Homo sapiens: one gene and its partner. The protein of the gene in region 2 interacts with the protein of the main gene of each other region in a biochemical or structural test. Each region holds a gene or a part of one and is shown on either strand. Other genes may lie near its edges.

Region 1 (6,916 bases), on a different chromosome or scaffold from region 2:
GGGAGAAACCCTCAGTTTGTTTATTTATTTTGAGATGGAGTTCGCTCTTGTTGCCCAGGCTGGAGTGCAATGGCGTGATCTCGGCTCACCAAAACCTCTGCCTCTTGGGTTCAAGTGATTCTCCTGCCTCAGCTTCCTGAGTAGCTGGGATTACAGGCATGCGCCACCATGCCTGGCTAATTTTGCATTTTTAGTAGAGACGGGGTTTCACCATGTTGGCCAGGCTGGTCTGAAACTCCCGACCTCAGGTGATCTGCCCACCTCAGCCTCCCAAAGTGCTGGGATTACAGGCATGAGCTACCGTGCCTGGCCTGTGTATTTTTGGAGACAGAGTCTTGCTCTGTTGCCCAGGCTGGAGGGCAGTGGTGCAAACTCTGCCTCCCGGGTTCAAGCGATTCTCGTGCGTCACCTCCCAAGTAGCTGGGGCTAGAGGCATGTGCCACCATGTCTGGTTACTTTTTATATAAACCTTCAGTTTAATCTTTTAGCTTACTGCTGTGTTTTTCAGCTTTATTCACTTTGCTTTTTTTCTATATTTTCGTTTCAACTCAACTTTTAAAAAATCATACTTGTATATTTGTATATTTATATTTATTTTCCAAGACCTCATTTGCCTCTTTTTCATAATGGGCTATTATTGCTCCATGGTACAGAATCTTCTGTTCTTTCCTAAACTATTAGTTATTTTTAAAATATTTGTTAACTTTCTCCCCCTTGCTAGTTCTCAGGTACCCGCTTTCTCCCAGAGTGCTGGCTTTCCTTAATTATTTGCTGACTTGTGCTGGTGTGTAACCCTTCATACTTAGGTATTTCTATTTGTCTGACTGCTGATTTGATTCCAATCCAGTGTTTCTTCTGATTCGTGGAGAAGAGACGACAACGCTGTGAGGCTCTGGTTTTGGTGGCTTGTCTGGGTGTGGGAGCTCCTTGTCATCATGGGATTTTTAGCTCCCTGGGTCGCCATCCTACATGGCCACTCTCCTGCCGATGCTGCCCGCTACTCAGCAGGAGGGGAAGTCGAGACCACCTCCTTAACCTTACAGACATTGATTGTGAGCTTGGAGCACCTTCCGTGACTGGACCACCCATGCAGTGGTCCTTTGCTTTTTGCATTTTTAACTGCAATTTTCCCCAAGAGTCTTCCCTAATACAGTCTCTTAGGAATTGACGGTGGGATTAAACAAGGCATGTTTCTGCACTGAATATGGTCTATGGGTTGCCACTTTGCAACCTCAGCTTTAAGGCTTATTTCCTCCCAGGAAACTGATGTTAACTTTTTAAGTTAAAAATGTGTATATAAGTAATACATGTTTATTTTGGAAATTAGAAAATACAGGCCAGGTGTGGTGGCTCATGCCTGTAATCCCAGCATTTTGGGAGGTTGAGGCAGGAGGATTGCCTGAGCCCAGGAGTTTGAGACCAGCCTGGGCAACATAGGGAAATTCCATCTCTACAAAAAAATTAAACATTAGCTGGGTGTGGTGGTGCCCACCTGTGGTCACAGCTACTCGGGAGACTGAGGTGGGAGGATAGCTTGGGCAGGGGAGGTTGAGGCTACAGTGAGCCACGATCACACCAATGTGACACAGTGAGACCCTGTCTCAAAAAAAAAAAAAAAGAAAGAAAATATAGGTAAACACAAAGACAAAAAAGCAGGGCATGGTGGCTCACACCTGTAATTCTAGCACCTTGGGAGGCTGAGGCAGGAGGATCACTTGAGGTCAGGAACTCGAGACGAGACCAGGCTGGGCAGCATGGCGAGACCCCATCTCTATAAAAAGTACAAAAATTAGCAGGGCACGGTGGTGTGCACCTGTGGTCCTGCTACTTGGGAAGTTGAGGTGGGAGGATCACCTGAGCCCTGGAGGTTGAGGGTGCTGTGAGCCATGATGGCACCACTCCACTCCAGTCCAGGTGAAAGAGCCAGATCCTGTCTCAAAAAAAAAAAAAAAAAAAAGTGGCTGGGCATGTAAACTTACCAAGGACCAAGGAGACAAGTCTTGAGAGAAAGGAAGGCAACTCAAAGGATGGACTTTTAAACACTTGTAACCAGCATTGGGAACAGTAGTAGGTTGAAGAGGGAAATCTAGAACTCATGCCTGAAAACTGCCAGTCATCCAGCCCATTTTTCCATACAGACATTTGGAAATAAGTTAATGGAGCCATTTTGGTGAGAGCCCTCTGTTCCCTTCAGGAGGCCTTTGTCAGGAAGAGGGTGGGGCAGGGGACTCACCCCCCACTCAAATCTGGAACTGAAACCAGCTTCAAAGCCGAGTGCAGAGCCAGCGCGGTGGCTCATGCCTGTCATCCCAGCACTTTGGGAGTCCAAGGCAGGCCTCACTTGAGGTCAGGAGTTCCAGACCGGCCTGGCCAACATGGTGATTGCACCACTGCGCTACAGCCTTGGGTGACAGAGCAAGACTCTGTCTCAAAAAACAAAACAACAATAAAACAAAGCAGAGTGCAGGAGTGGCTGTGGACTCTGGACGCCCTGCTAGGATTAGGATGGGTGTTCCTGGCTCATGGGCCTCACTGGCTCTTCTGATGCCCTGCCACCCCCACCCCAGACTGGCTTTGAGCCCCGGAAACCTTGACAGCTTTCTAGAGGTGTCTGTCAGTTAGGTTGTGCCACGCGAAGTTGCCGTTTCTGCAGGTCAAATAGTGGTGGACTATTGGCAATTTCTAGGCACCTCTGGTCTGGTTGATCCAAATCCTCCAACCTGTGGCACATTTATTTAGCGCTCATTTTGTGCCAGCCTGCCTGCTAAGCAACTTATAGCCATTTTTATTTGTATTTATTTTTCTTTTTGAGACAGGGCCTCGCTCTGTCGCCCAGGCTAGAGTGCAATGGCGCAATCTCGGCTCACTGCAACCTCCACCTCCCGGATTCAAGCGATTCTCCTGCCTCAGCCTCCCGAGTAGCTGGGATTACAGGGGTGCACCACTACGACCGGCTAATTTTTGTTATTTTTAGTAGAGACAGGGTTTCACCGTGTTGGCCTGGCTGGTCTTGAACTTCTGGCCTCAAGTGATCCACCCGCCTCGGCCTCCAAAAGTGCTAGGATTACAGGCATGAGCCACCGCGCCCCACTATAGCCATTTTTAAACTGTCCCAAGTTTCTGAGGAAACGGAATTGTTCACCATTTGACAGAGAAGAAAACTCTGGCTCAGATACTCCCCTTTTAGAATTGTTTCGGGGGCTGGCTCGTCCGTCAAACTTTAAAAAAATAACAACAGCATGCTGAGTTGAAGTTAAAAGAGCTGGGGTCTGGAGGTCGCTGGGCTCAGGGGCGCTGCCACTCAACAGCTGCGCCGAGCTGGGGACGCGCAGGGGAAGCAAGTTCCCAGCTCTGTGGACTCCAGGTCTGAGAAAAATCCTGTCGGTATTCAGCCACCCAGTGTTCCCATCAATACGATGAGAATAATGAGGACAATAGCCACCACGTCCGGCAAACTCAGGCGTGAGCTGCGAGGACTCGGTACCGCCCGGCAGGGAAAAAGCAGGGCCTGGAGGCCGAGGAGCCCCACCCGCACCCACCACGTGGAGCCGGCCGGGCCTGCGGCGAAGCCACAGGGCGACTCCCGGGGCGCGGAGCGGGGCGGGGGCGGGACTAGCACGGCCCCACTCTGCCGACGCCTCTCCCAGGTCGCGACACCGGCGAGCCGCTCCGCCCGGCCACCGTGTCCCTCAGCACCCACGGACGCCGGGAGAGGAGGAGGTGGCGAGGGGCACGGCCGGGAGGCGTGGCCTCCGCTTCCCCTTTTTTTTTTTTTTTGGTCCGCCTAGCTAAGGAAAGGTTCCCCTGCGCCTTTAAGAGGCCGACGCGGGCAGCCGATTGGCCCAGACGCCTCGGTGACGTCACGCCGGGGCCGGAGCCCTCCCCCTCCCGCCGCGCCGCGCGCTCGCGGACAGTCGGCGCGCGGGCCGGGCCGGGCCGGCGCCCCTCTGCCTCGCGCGCTTGTCGCGTTGCCCCGGGCTCCGGGGGATGCCCCCGGCCGAGCCCTTCTCATGGCCGCCGACGTCTTCATGTGCTCCCCGCGCCGGCCTCGCAGCCGGGGCCGCCAGGTGCTGCTCAAGCCCCAGGTGTCCGAGGACGACGACGACTCGGACACGGATGAGCCGTCCCCGCCGCCCGCCTCCGGCGCGGCCACCCCGGCCCGGGCCCACGCGAGCGCCGCGCCACCGCCGCCTCGGGCCGGGCCGGGCCGCGAGGAACCTCCGCGCCGCCAGCAGATCATCCACAGCGGCCACTTCATGGTGTCGTCGCCGCACCGAGAGCACCCGCCCAAGAAGGGCTACGATTTCGACACGGTCAACAAACAGACGTGCCAGACCTACAGCTTCGGCAAGACTAGCTCCTGCCACCTGTCCATCGACGCCTCGCTCACCAAGCTCTTCGAGTGCATGACTTTGGCCTACAGGTAGGGACCCCCGCGACCCCCTGAGGCCCCGGCCGGAGGCCCTTGTTTGACAAAACAAGCGTGGAGGGAAGGGCCGCCTGGCAACCCCGTGGCTTCATGCATTCCCTTTGGGTCTTCCTCCTTCGGGAGGGTTTATGGATCTGGGGTTCCCCGCGTTGCCAGAGGAGCCGGGGTCCTGGCCTCTTCCCCTGCCAGCAGTGCCGGGGTCCTTTCGGGTTCACGTTCCCCATCCAGGCCCTCCCCTCCAGTGTCCTGGGACCACCGATGTTGGACGAGGAAGAGGTATAAACACTGGCTGCATCTTGTGTTACCCGACTCTATCGACTCCTTCCTCCAAACGCTTTGTGTGTTTCCCCCATATCCAGCAGCGGTCAGGACCACCTGTTCGGGGTGACTGGAGGCTGGCTCTGCTGTTTAATGGTTGTGTAACACCTCGGAGCCTGTTTCCTCCTTTATAAAAGGGGAATGACTGTAGTGTCTGCCTCCAAGGGGCTGTTGTGGGGATGGAGTGAGATAGGTAAATTGCTTATTCCAGTGCTTGGCCAGAGTTAGGTGTCCCTGCACCTGGAGGCTGGCCCCCTTACAACCTCATCGGGAGGCCCGCCCCCATCTCGGGAGGGCTTTGGGTGCCTCCTAAGAAGACTTTTGGTGCCACAGCTGTTGGAGGTGCAGTCTGTCCTTCTGGCAAGTTGGAGGGTTTTCTGGCCGGTCCTGAAACATTATATGAGGGAGATGTCATTGTTGAGGGCAGACATCCCAGACACCGTTCTGACATGTGGATTCGGCTCTGGGCAGAGATTCCTCTTTTCCAAGTCACAGAAAATGCCTGGCCCTCAAAGATTAAAGCGCTTTTTCACTCTCTCTCCCTTTCCCACTATGAATATTAGGTATTTGCTGCAGGTAACTTTTTTGTCTGCGCAACAGAACTTCTTTGGACTGGCAGCAGCGGCCTTGAGCAGCTTGGCCCTGCAGAAAGCTCATGATGGGATCTCTGCTGAGTTAAGCTTATTGCATTAGGAACTGGACTAGCGGGGGCTGTCTTAGGTCTGCTCTGGAGGCATCGCGGGAGAAGTTTCCTAGGAGACTCCATAAACAGCGTAATAAAAGAGCAGGAATATCTTGCCCCCTCTCACCTCACCTTTTTAAGAGAGCTGTGAGCCCCAAGCATATCCAGGTTTAAATGTTATGCTTTTACCTGAAGTTAAAATATTAGATACTTAGCCCTGGATGGCACCCCCCTCACCGCCGCGGTCCCTGGAATAAACGATTAGTCAACTTGTTCTTTGTTATGTTCCTGAAACACCCCTATTTCCTCTCTTGAAGGTTTCCCTGATGATCTGTTCCCGTAGCTCCTCCTCCCATCCCCCTTACCCGGCACATTGGTCAGTCTCTGCTGATTCTCTGGTCTTGCCAGTTTGAGCTGGCACTGAGCCTGTAAAGATGTTCTGCTTTTTAAAAAACAAATGGTGTTGAGGCTGCAGCCCTGTGCGCCCTCCAGTCTCTGATTTTGAGCAGTTCCATTGGAATCAAACCCGACTGGATCGCAGCATATGCTATGCCTCGAGAGAGCCTTTTCAAACAAAGCTCGAGGTGAAAGACTGGAATGTATCTTATTAAGAAAACTTAATCCTCTTCTTTATTTTAATATAAACTTCTACATATACAGGGAGAGAATGGATGAGTCACGGGGGGCATGGACTGGAAAGGTCTCACCTAAGTAAGCTCTGCTAAATGAAAACTAAATCAGTCTCCCCTTTGCACTCTTGTTTGGATAACCTAAAGGCTTATTAAACAACACCAAATAATTTTAGTAATGGCATTTTTTTTTTCATTTCTCTCAAAAATATTTTGGCAGCTGGCCGTTGCTCAGTTAACTTTCTTGATTGCAAAATGCACCATCAGTTTGGTGCAAGAAGCTTATCTTGCTCTCTTGGCTCTCTCACTTTCGCTGCTTTTCCCTGTGCCTAAGGTCTCCTGCTGCCTAAGGTCGGCCACCTAAGGTCTACCACCACAGGCCCTCGGATGGGATCTGTCCAGTCATTTCTCATGAAGATGCCCTTTGTCTGTCTGTGTGAGGCTGGTTTGTCCAGTGCTGAGTTTAGTTGGCAGTGTAGAACTTTGGTATGGATGACAGACAAATGACTCAAAACCAGTTGTCTGGGCTGTAGTCTGTGGCACAGAAAGAAACTAGAGGAAGGTGAGTTTCTGACCCCAGCTCTCCTAGTGAGAACTGCTACCTGGCTTTCAGGGAAGGAAGGTTGAGATCGGAGGCAACGCGGGGCGTGGTGGCTCATGCCTGTAGTCCCAGCACTTTGGGAGGCCGAGGTGGGGGATTGCTTGAGCCCAGGAGTTCAAGATCAGCCTGGGCAATGTAGCAAGATCCCCATCTCTAAAAAAGAAAAAGAAAGAAAGAAAAAAAGGGATTGGGGGCAGGGCAGAAAGAAGACTTAACCTCAGAGCCTGTCTGGCTTCCATCCTGGTGGGGTTCATGCC
Region 2 (6,866 bases):
CTCAGTGTCGCGTGCATCCTGGCCCAGGAGCAGCTTGTGGTGGGAGTAGCAGACAAAGATCTGTTGAAGAGTGAGTAAGAGGGACCCTGGACTAGGGTGGAGGATCCCCAAATCTCCCCACCCCCGACCCTTATGCCGAGATCAAGGAAGGGTAGGGCCATTCATTACTTCCCACCCTTCCCAAATGTCACAGTGGTTGACACTCAATTGGTGCTAAGGCCATTTTGTCAAATGAACAGCTTTCTCAGCATGTGGTCCAGTCACCACTCAATCAGAATACCCCAAATGTGAAGCAAAGGGATCTGCATTTTAGCAAGTTTTCCAGGTGATACACCCTAATGAGACACTGGGAATGAATGGGTGAGTGAGCTGCAGGTAGCAGTGCCACAGACAGGAGGAGGAAACTCAAGCATGGCATGGGTCTTGGAATTTTCCATCTGCCTCTGATGCCCTCTGGCACTGCTCGTTCTCTGGAGTGGTTTCCTGGTGGCTTATTCTCTGGACACATGCCAGCCCTTGGAGTGACTATTGTGCTTGCCTGTTTCTTCACCTTCATGCTCCCCTCACCATCACCATAGGCCTTACCAGTTGAACCCTTTCTGCCACCCCCTCTGGGGATACTGTACTTAGGGACACTTTTTCCCAAACTGGCCCATACTCTCCTCCCCAATAAAAAGATCTCACTGTTCTTCTGGGCTCCTTCCCCAGGCAAGTTGCTCCCTGAGCTGCTCCAACCTTATACAGAACGTGTGGAACATCTGAGTGAATTCCTGGTGGACATCAAGCCCTCCTTGACTTTTGATGTCATCCCCCTGCTGGACCCCTATGGGCCCGCTGGCTCTGACCCCTCCCTGGAGTTCCTGGTGGTCAGCGAGGAGACCTATCGTGGGGGGATGGCCATCAACCGCTTCCGCCTTGAGAATGTAACCCCTGAGGGAGACTGGCAGAGGGAGTGGATGGGGGACGGGGAAGGCCATTTTGAGGGGGCTGTTGGAAGTACCATGGCCCCAGAGGAGAGAAGTGGGGGCTCAGGGTGGTGGGAAGAAGCAAGGAGGAACTGGTTCTCAGTTTGCCCGCTGAGTCGGAGGAGGAGGAGCCTGGGTAGGAAGGGGAGGATGGGGGGGCAGGTTGGATGTCAGGGTCTTCCTCTCACTCCCTCCTTCCCTCTTTTTACCCTTTCCTCTTTACCCCAGGACCTGGAGGAACTTGCTTTGTACCAGATCCAGCTGCTGAAGGACCTCAGACATACAGAGAATGAAGAGGACAAAGTCAGCTCCTCCAGCTTCCGCCAGCGAATGTTGGGGAACCTGCTTCGGCCTCCATATGTAAGCTCCTCTCCCTCCTTCCCTCCTGCTTGGTGTCCTGGCAATGCTGGAGAGTAGAAGCTGAGGGGCTCAGCCCCAGGCATGAGGCTGAGGGCCCCAGTAACTGTGGGTTCCCTTTCACCTATCCCCAGGAAAGGCCAGAGCTCCCCACATGTCTCTATGTAATTGGGCTGACTGGCATCAGTGGCTCTGGGAAGAGCTCAATAGCTCAGCGACTGAAGGGCCTGGGGGCGTTTGTCATTGACAGTGACCACCTGGGTCATCGGGCCTATGCCCCAGGTGGCCCTGCCTACCAGCCTGTGGTGGAGGCCTTTGGAACAGGTAATAACTGGGGAAGGCTGAAAGTGGCCTGGAGTGAGGAGCTAGCCAGGCCTCTGTGCTCAGTTGTCTGTCTGTGTTGTCCAGATATTCTCCATAAAGATGGCATCATCAACAGGAAGGTCCTAGGCAGCCGGGTGTTTGGGAATAAGGTAAACAATAACTTCCTAAGGGCTCCTAAGCCGCTACTAGACCCAGGGGTCAGGGTCCAGTGGACCTCTCTGGTCTGGCCCAGAATGCCATTTCCATTGATCTGTTCCCAACACCACCTTGCTCGGGCTGGCTGCCTCTTCTAGAGAAGGTAACCTCTGCCCTCTGTTCCCCTCCCCAGAAGCAGCTGAAGATACTCACGGACATTATGTGGCCAATTATCGCAAAGCTGGCCCGAGAGGAGATGGATCGGGCTGTGGCTGAGGGTGAGTGGGAGGGAGGATGGCAACAGCTAAGGGGACAGTTAAGCTGTTTCTTCCCCTGGGAGCTTCCCTGCCCAACGTGGGACTGTCTGTTCACCCTGGGACTGTGTTCTGCCTGGGAGAACGTCGGCACTGCTGGCGGTGACTGGGGTCTCCCCACAGGAAAGCGTGTGTGTGTGATTGATGCCGCTGTGTTGCTTGAAGCCGGCTGGCAGAACCTGGTCCATGAGGTGTGGACTGCTGTCATCCCAGAGACTGAGGTATCTCGCCCCACCCCCCACACCATCCCTACTGCAGATCCTATCCTGTGAGCTGGAATTCTTCCTGACAAATGTCTCGTCTGTGCTCAGGCTGTAAGACGCATTGTGGAGAGGGATGGCCTCAGTGAAGCCGCGGCTCAAAGCCGGCTGCAGAGCCAGATGAGCGGGCAGCAGCTTGTGGAACAGAGCCACGTGGTGCTCAGCACCTTGTGGGAGCCGCATATCACCCAACGCCAGGTTGGTGCCCAGGGCAAGGCCGGGTTGTGGGGAAGGAGTCTCCAGTGGGTACTGCCTGACCCTGCCCTCTCTTCCTCCCAACATCCTGGCCTGTCTGAAGGTGGAGAAAGCCTGGGCCCTCTTGCAGAAGCGCATTCCCAAGACTCATCAGGCCCTCGACTGAAAAGTTCTCAGTGGGGCCAGACTGGCTCCTGGAGCTGACAAGCGACCCCGTGGTGAGGAGAAATGGGGGCCTTGATGCTCACCCTGGTTCAGGCCCAGAGGTCCAAGCTATACTGTGCAGGACATGGCCAGGCCTGGTGGACACAGGAAGCCTACCCAACACGCTGGTATTTGGCCAACACTGAGGATGTGGTTCATGGGGGAGCAGTCCCCTCCCCACTCTTGCCCATGGGTGACTCTTACCCACAGCTGACTAGGGCCAGCGCAAATACTGGAACCTGTAACAGAATTAAAGGTGAATGTTCTGAGATGTTGCTTGTATGGTGTCTGCTTCCTGTTCCAATGCCCCTAAGTATCTTTGGGATCCTTAAGCCACAAGTGCAGGGCCCAGGCCTGAGCTGGAAGCCTGGGCAATGCAGTGGTTAAGAGAATGGCCTTTGAGGCTAGCCAGAGGCGAGCTTTGGCCCTCCCACTGACCAGCTGTGTTCTTCTGAGTAAGGTGTAGACTTTCTAGGTACTGCCGTGTTTTATTGTTTTTGTTTTGTTTTTAATATGAGAGGCCGCATAACCTAGCTAGCAGGTTCTTTGCAAGGGTTCATTCCACATGCATCCTGCCAGACACTGGGCTGGGTGTTGGAAGATCAGCCTTCCGCGCGCCAGGCGGGGCCTCTGCCCTCACAGAGCTTGCAGCCTGGTGGGGTCGGACGATGTGGCTGGGGGCTTCTCTGCCCGGTTCCTGACACACCGGCCAGCAGTGCAGGTCCGGTGAGCGCGGGGAGGCCGCCCTCAGGGTAACGTGGGGAGCCGGCCGGCCGGACAGTGCGCGTGCACACACTATCTGCGGCGGTGTGCTGACAAGCCAATTGAGGGGACTCCATCTTACAAAACGCGCTTCATGTCGCCGCCATTCCACTGCCTAACCCGGGGAGGGCAGGCACGGCGGGGAGCAGTCTCGAAGGAGGCTGGCGCCAGGCCAAGCGCCGGGCCTTGACGGCTGGAACCGTGGAGTAAAGTCTTTGGGCTGCGCATGCGCGATGCTTCGCCCTGCCCCACCTCTCGGTCGCGGATTGGCGGGCGCGGGTCACGTGGGCACGCCACCCGCTTCCTCGCCGCAGGGGGCCCGCCCGCTGGCCCGTTTCCGGTCCGGTGGGTACAAGATGACGGAGCCGGGCGCCTCTCCCGAGGACCCTTGGGTCAAGGCAAGCCCCGTGGGCGCGCACGCCGGCGAGGGGAGGGCGGGTCGGGCTCGTGCACGTAGGGGGGCCGGAAGACGAGGGGCTTCCCTCCTGTCCCCAAAGTCCCCCACGCTCTCCGTGCCCCGGGGCTGCAGAGAAGACAGCTCTCACCCCGCGTGTGCCAAGGTGGGGAGACAAACGAGGCGTGTGCGCGCGAGTCGGGGGAACGGGGCACTGGGGTGGAGTAGGGGCGGAAGGGATCATACACAGGGGAGGCACTCGCACGCCCTAGCCTGTGCCAGTCTCGGGGGACTCATTAAGCTGCCCGCGCACCCCGGGCTGTGTGTGTGCAAGCGCGCAGGGTGACAGAGGCGCCTTCCCGGAATGGGGGGCGCGCTGTGCGTGCCTGCAGTGGAAGGGGCGCCTCCCCCTAGGGGCGGAGGTCTGACGGGCCCTTCCCGTGCTCTGTGCCGCAGGTGGAGTATGCCTACAGCGACAACAGCCTGGACCCCGGTGAGTAGCTGCCCCATCTTAAGCTCTAGAGGGACACTCCCGCCCAGGCTCTCTAGATTCTTGTGGCGTTGCCAACCACGCCTGAGCACAGTCCACTCTCCCTGAGCAGAGTTCCTGGCTTGAGACAGCAGGAGCTGAAGGACAAGGGCAGAAAACAACTGAGGGTGACACCTAGTTCCCTCTGCTCTGGAACAGGGAAGTGGTGGAACTGATCACTCACCACTCAGTGGAGCAGCTGATCACTCACACCCTCATCACGTCCACATGCCCGTTTGTGAGCCAGGGGGGTATCATGCAGGCCTATGGAGCAGTGTAGACACTAGGGAGCAGAGCACTGCAGCGTGGTCTGGCAGGAAGTGGGGGGCCCAGTATGGTTGGCTTTGGGTTGAAGGGAAGAGGTCAGCATTTAAGAAAGCCATTGTGTGGCCGGGCGCGGTGGCTCACCCCTGTAATCCCAGCACTTTGGGAGGCCGAGGCAGGCGGATCACGAGGTCAGGAGACCGAGACCATCCTGGCTAACACGGTGAAACCCCGTCTCCACTAAAAAATACAAAAAAATTAGCCGGGCGTGGTGGCGGGCGCCTGTAGTCCCAGCTACTCGGGAGGCTGAGGCAGGAGAATGGCGTGAACCTGGGAGGCGGAGCTTGCAGTGAGCCGAGATCGCGCCACTGCACTCTAGCCTGGGCGACTGAGCGAGACTCTGTCTAAAAAAAAAATAAATAAATAAAAGAAAGCCATTGTGTCCTACAGGTGTCTGAGGGTCTGGCAATGTTCCCCACCCCACCCCTTAGTGATTGGGGCCTCTCTTTTCCAGGGCTTTTTGTAGAAAGCACCCGCAAGGGGAGTGTAGTGTCCAGAGCTAATAGCATCGGTTCCACCAGTGCCTCTTCTGTCCCCAACACAGGTAGGCAGTAACATCCCCCCCGACCTCGGGGGGCTCAGATATGTCATAATTGTAGTACCTTTCCTAGACAGGGAAGCCCCAGCCATCCACACAGGGGTGCTGGAGCCAAAGTATCAGACACAAGGTCTCACCATCTTTCACCTCATCTGGAACATTAGGTGGTTCTGTCCATCTGCCTTCTCTGGACACCAGGTTCTTCCCAGCTGGGGAAAGGTGGGCTAGCTGGACCCCACTGGGCCCCAAGATGACCTTTCCCTGCCCCCATCTCTGAGCGTAGATGATGAGGACAGTGATTACCACCAGGAGGCCTACAAGGAGTCCTACAAAGACCGGCGGCGGCGCGCACACACTCAGGCTGAGCAGAAGAGGAGGGACGCCATCAAGGTGAACAGGGAGGCCTGTGCCTCAGCCAGTGCGGGAGGGCCCTGCATAGTTTAGCTTCCCTGTGCCCTGACCCACTCAGACAGTCCCAGGCACCCTAGGGGGTGGGCAGGTAGTATAGTCCCAGGCACAAACACCTCCCTTGCAGCCTTCCCACCCCATTGAGTTTGTGAGCATAGAACTTGGTGTCATGGAGGAACTTTGTGCCATTTTGCTTTAATCTCTCAGGGTTAAAGAACCCATTTCCCCTGCTGTTTCCACAGAGAGGCTATGATGACCTTCAGACCATCGTCCCCACTTGCCAGCAGCAGGACTTCTCCATTGGCTCCCAAAAGCTCAGCAAAGCCATCGTTCTACAAAAGAGTATGGCTAGGGAAAGCACTGGAGGGGATGGAGCCAAGCGGGGCTGTGAAGAGGCCAGTGCCTCCTACCCACCCATGGCTCGGCCTTGGTGTGGTGATTGCCATGGGATAGTTGGGGTCTGGGGTAAGGGGAACAAAGTCAGCCTTATCTTCTTGGTTGAGAATACTTCTGTACCTGTCCTTTTTTTCTTGCCCCCACCCTAGCCATTGACTACATTCAGTTTTTGCACAAGGAGAAGAAAAAGCAGGAGGAGGAGGTGTCCACGTTACGCAAGGATGTCACCGCCCTAAAGATCATGAAAGTGTAAGAGGGGTGCTGAATGGGGGGAACCAGAACTTCTGAGGCAACTTCATTGCACACCCTCCCTTGTTCAAAGGCCACATCAGTTACTGCTGTACAGATAATACTCTTAGTTCCTGAGCTAGCCAGTAGGACTGTGTATCCCCAACTGTCCTTACACATGGCAGACACTCAGGAAATGCCTGTTGGATTAATGTAAGGAAGGTTGGAGAGAGAGGGCCACCTTTCCTGACCTGGAAGCAGTATCTCCCTGATACTGAACCCCACCCAGAAGCTCTCTGGGGCTGCCATTCCTGGGAGTACACAGGATAGTCCCGTCATTCTTCTTGGGTGGGCGGAGCTGCTGCAGCACCTCAGCCCTGGCCTGCATGCTTTTAGGAACTATGAGCAGATTGTGAAGGCACACCAGGACAACCCCCATGAAGGGGAGGACCAGGTCTCTGACCAGGTCAAGTTCAACGTGTTTCAAGGCATCATGGATTCCCTGTTCCAGTCCTTCAATGCCTCCATCTCAG

Evidence for each region.
Region 1: the proteins of MLX (region 2) and MLXIP form a complex in vitro, tested with the Homo sapiens proteins (2 studies listed by BioGRID, with this or other methods).

Annotation. Positions count from the first base shown.
Region 1 is NC_000012.12:122,074,844-122,081,759, forward strand, and holds the start of MLXIP (MLX-interacting protein), read left to right. Parts: upstream 1-3,912; 5' UTR 3,913-4,010; coding exon 4,011-4,423; intron 4,424-6,916. UniProt on the Homo sapiens protein: Binds DNA as a heterodimer with MLX and activates transcription. Binds to the canonical E box sequence 5'-CACGTG-3'. Plays a role in transcriptional activation of glycolytic target genes. Involved in glucose-responsive gene regulation.
Region 2 is NC_000017.11:42,563,253-42,570,118, forward strand, and holds the start of MLX (max-like protein X), read left to right. Parts: upstream 1-3,847; 5' UTR 3,848-3,872; coding exon 3,873-3,914; coding exon of another isoform or gene 3,915-4,076; intron 4,077-4,366; coding exon 4,367-4,403; intron 4,404-5,217; coding exon 5,218-5,307; intron 5,308-5,584; coding exon 5,585-5,691; intron 5,692-5,951; coding exon 5,952-6,051; intron 6,052-6,254; coding exon 6,255-6,354; intron 6,355-6,729; coding exon 6,730-6,866. Other genes in the region: COASY (bifunctional coenzyme A synthase), read left to right, coding at 1-70, 709-923, 1,194-1,325, 1,457-1,646, 1,731-1,795, 1,975-2,059, 2,219-2,316, 2,407-2,553 and 1 more. UniProt on the Homo sapiens protein: Transcription regulator. Forms a sequence-specific DNA-binding protein complex with MAD1, MAD4, MNT, WBSCR14 and MLXIP which recognizes the core sequence 5'-CACGTG-3'. The TCFL4-MAD1, TCFL4-MAD4, TCFL4-WBSCR14 complexes are transcriptional repressors.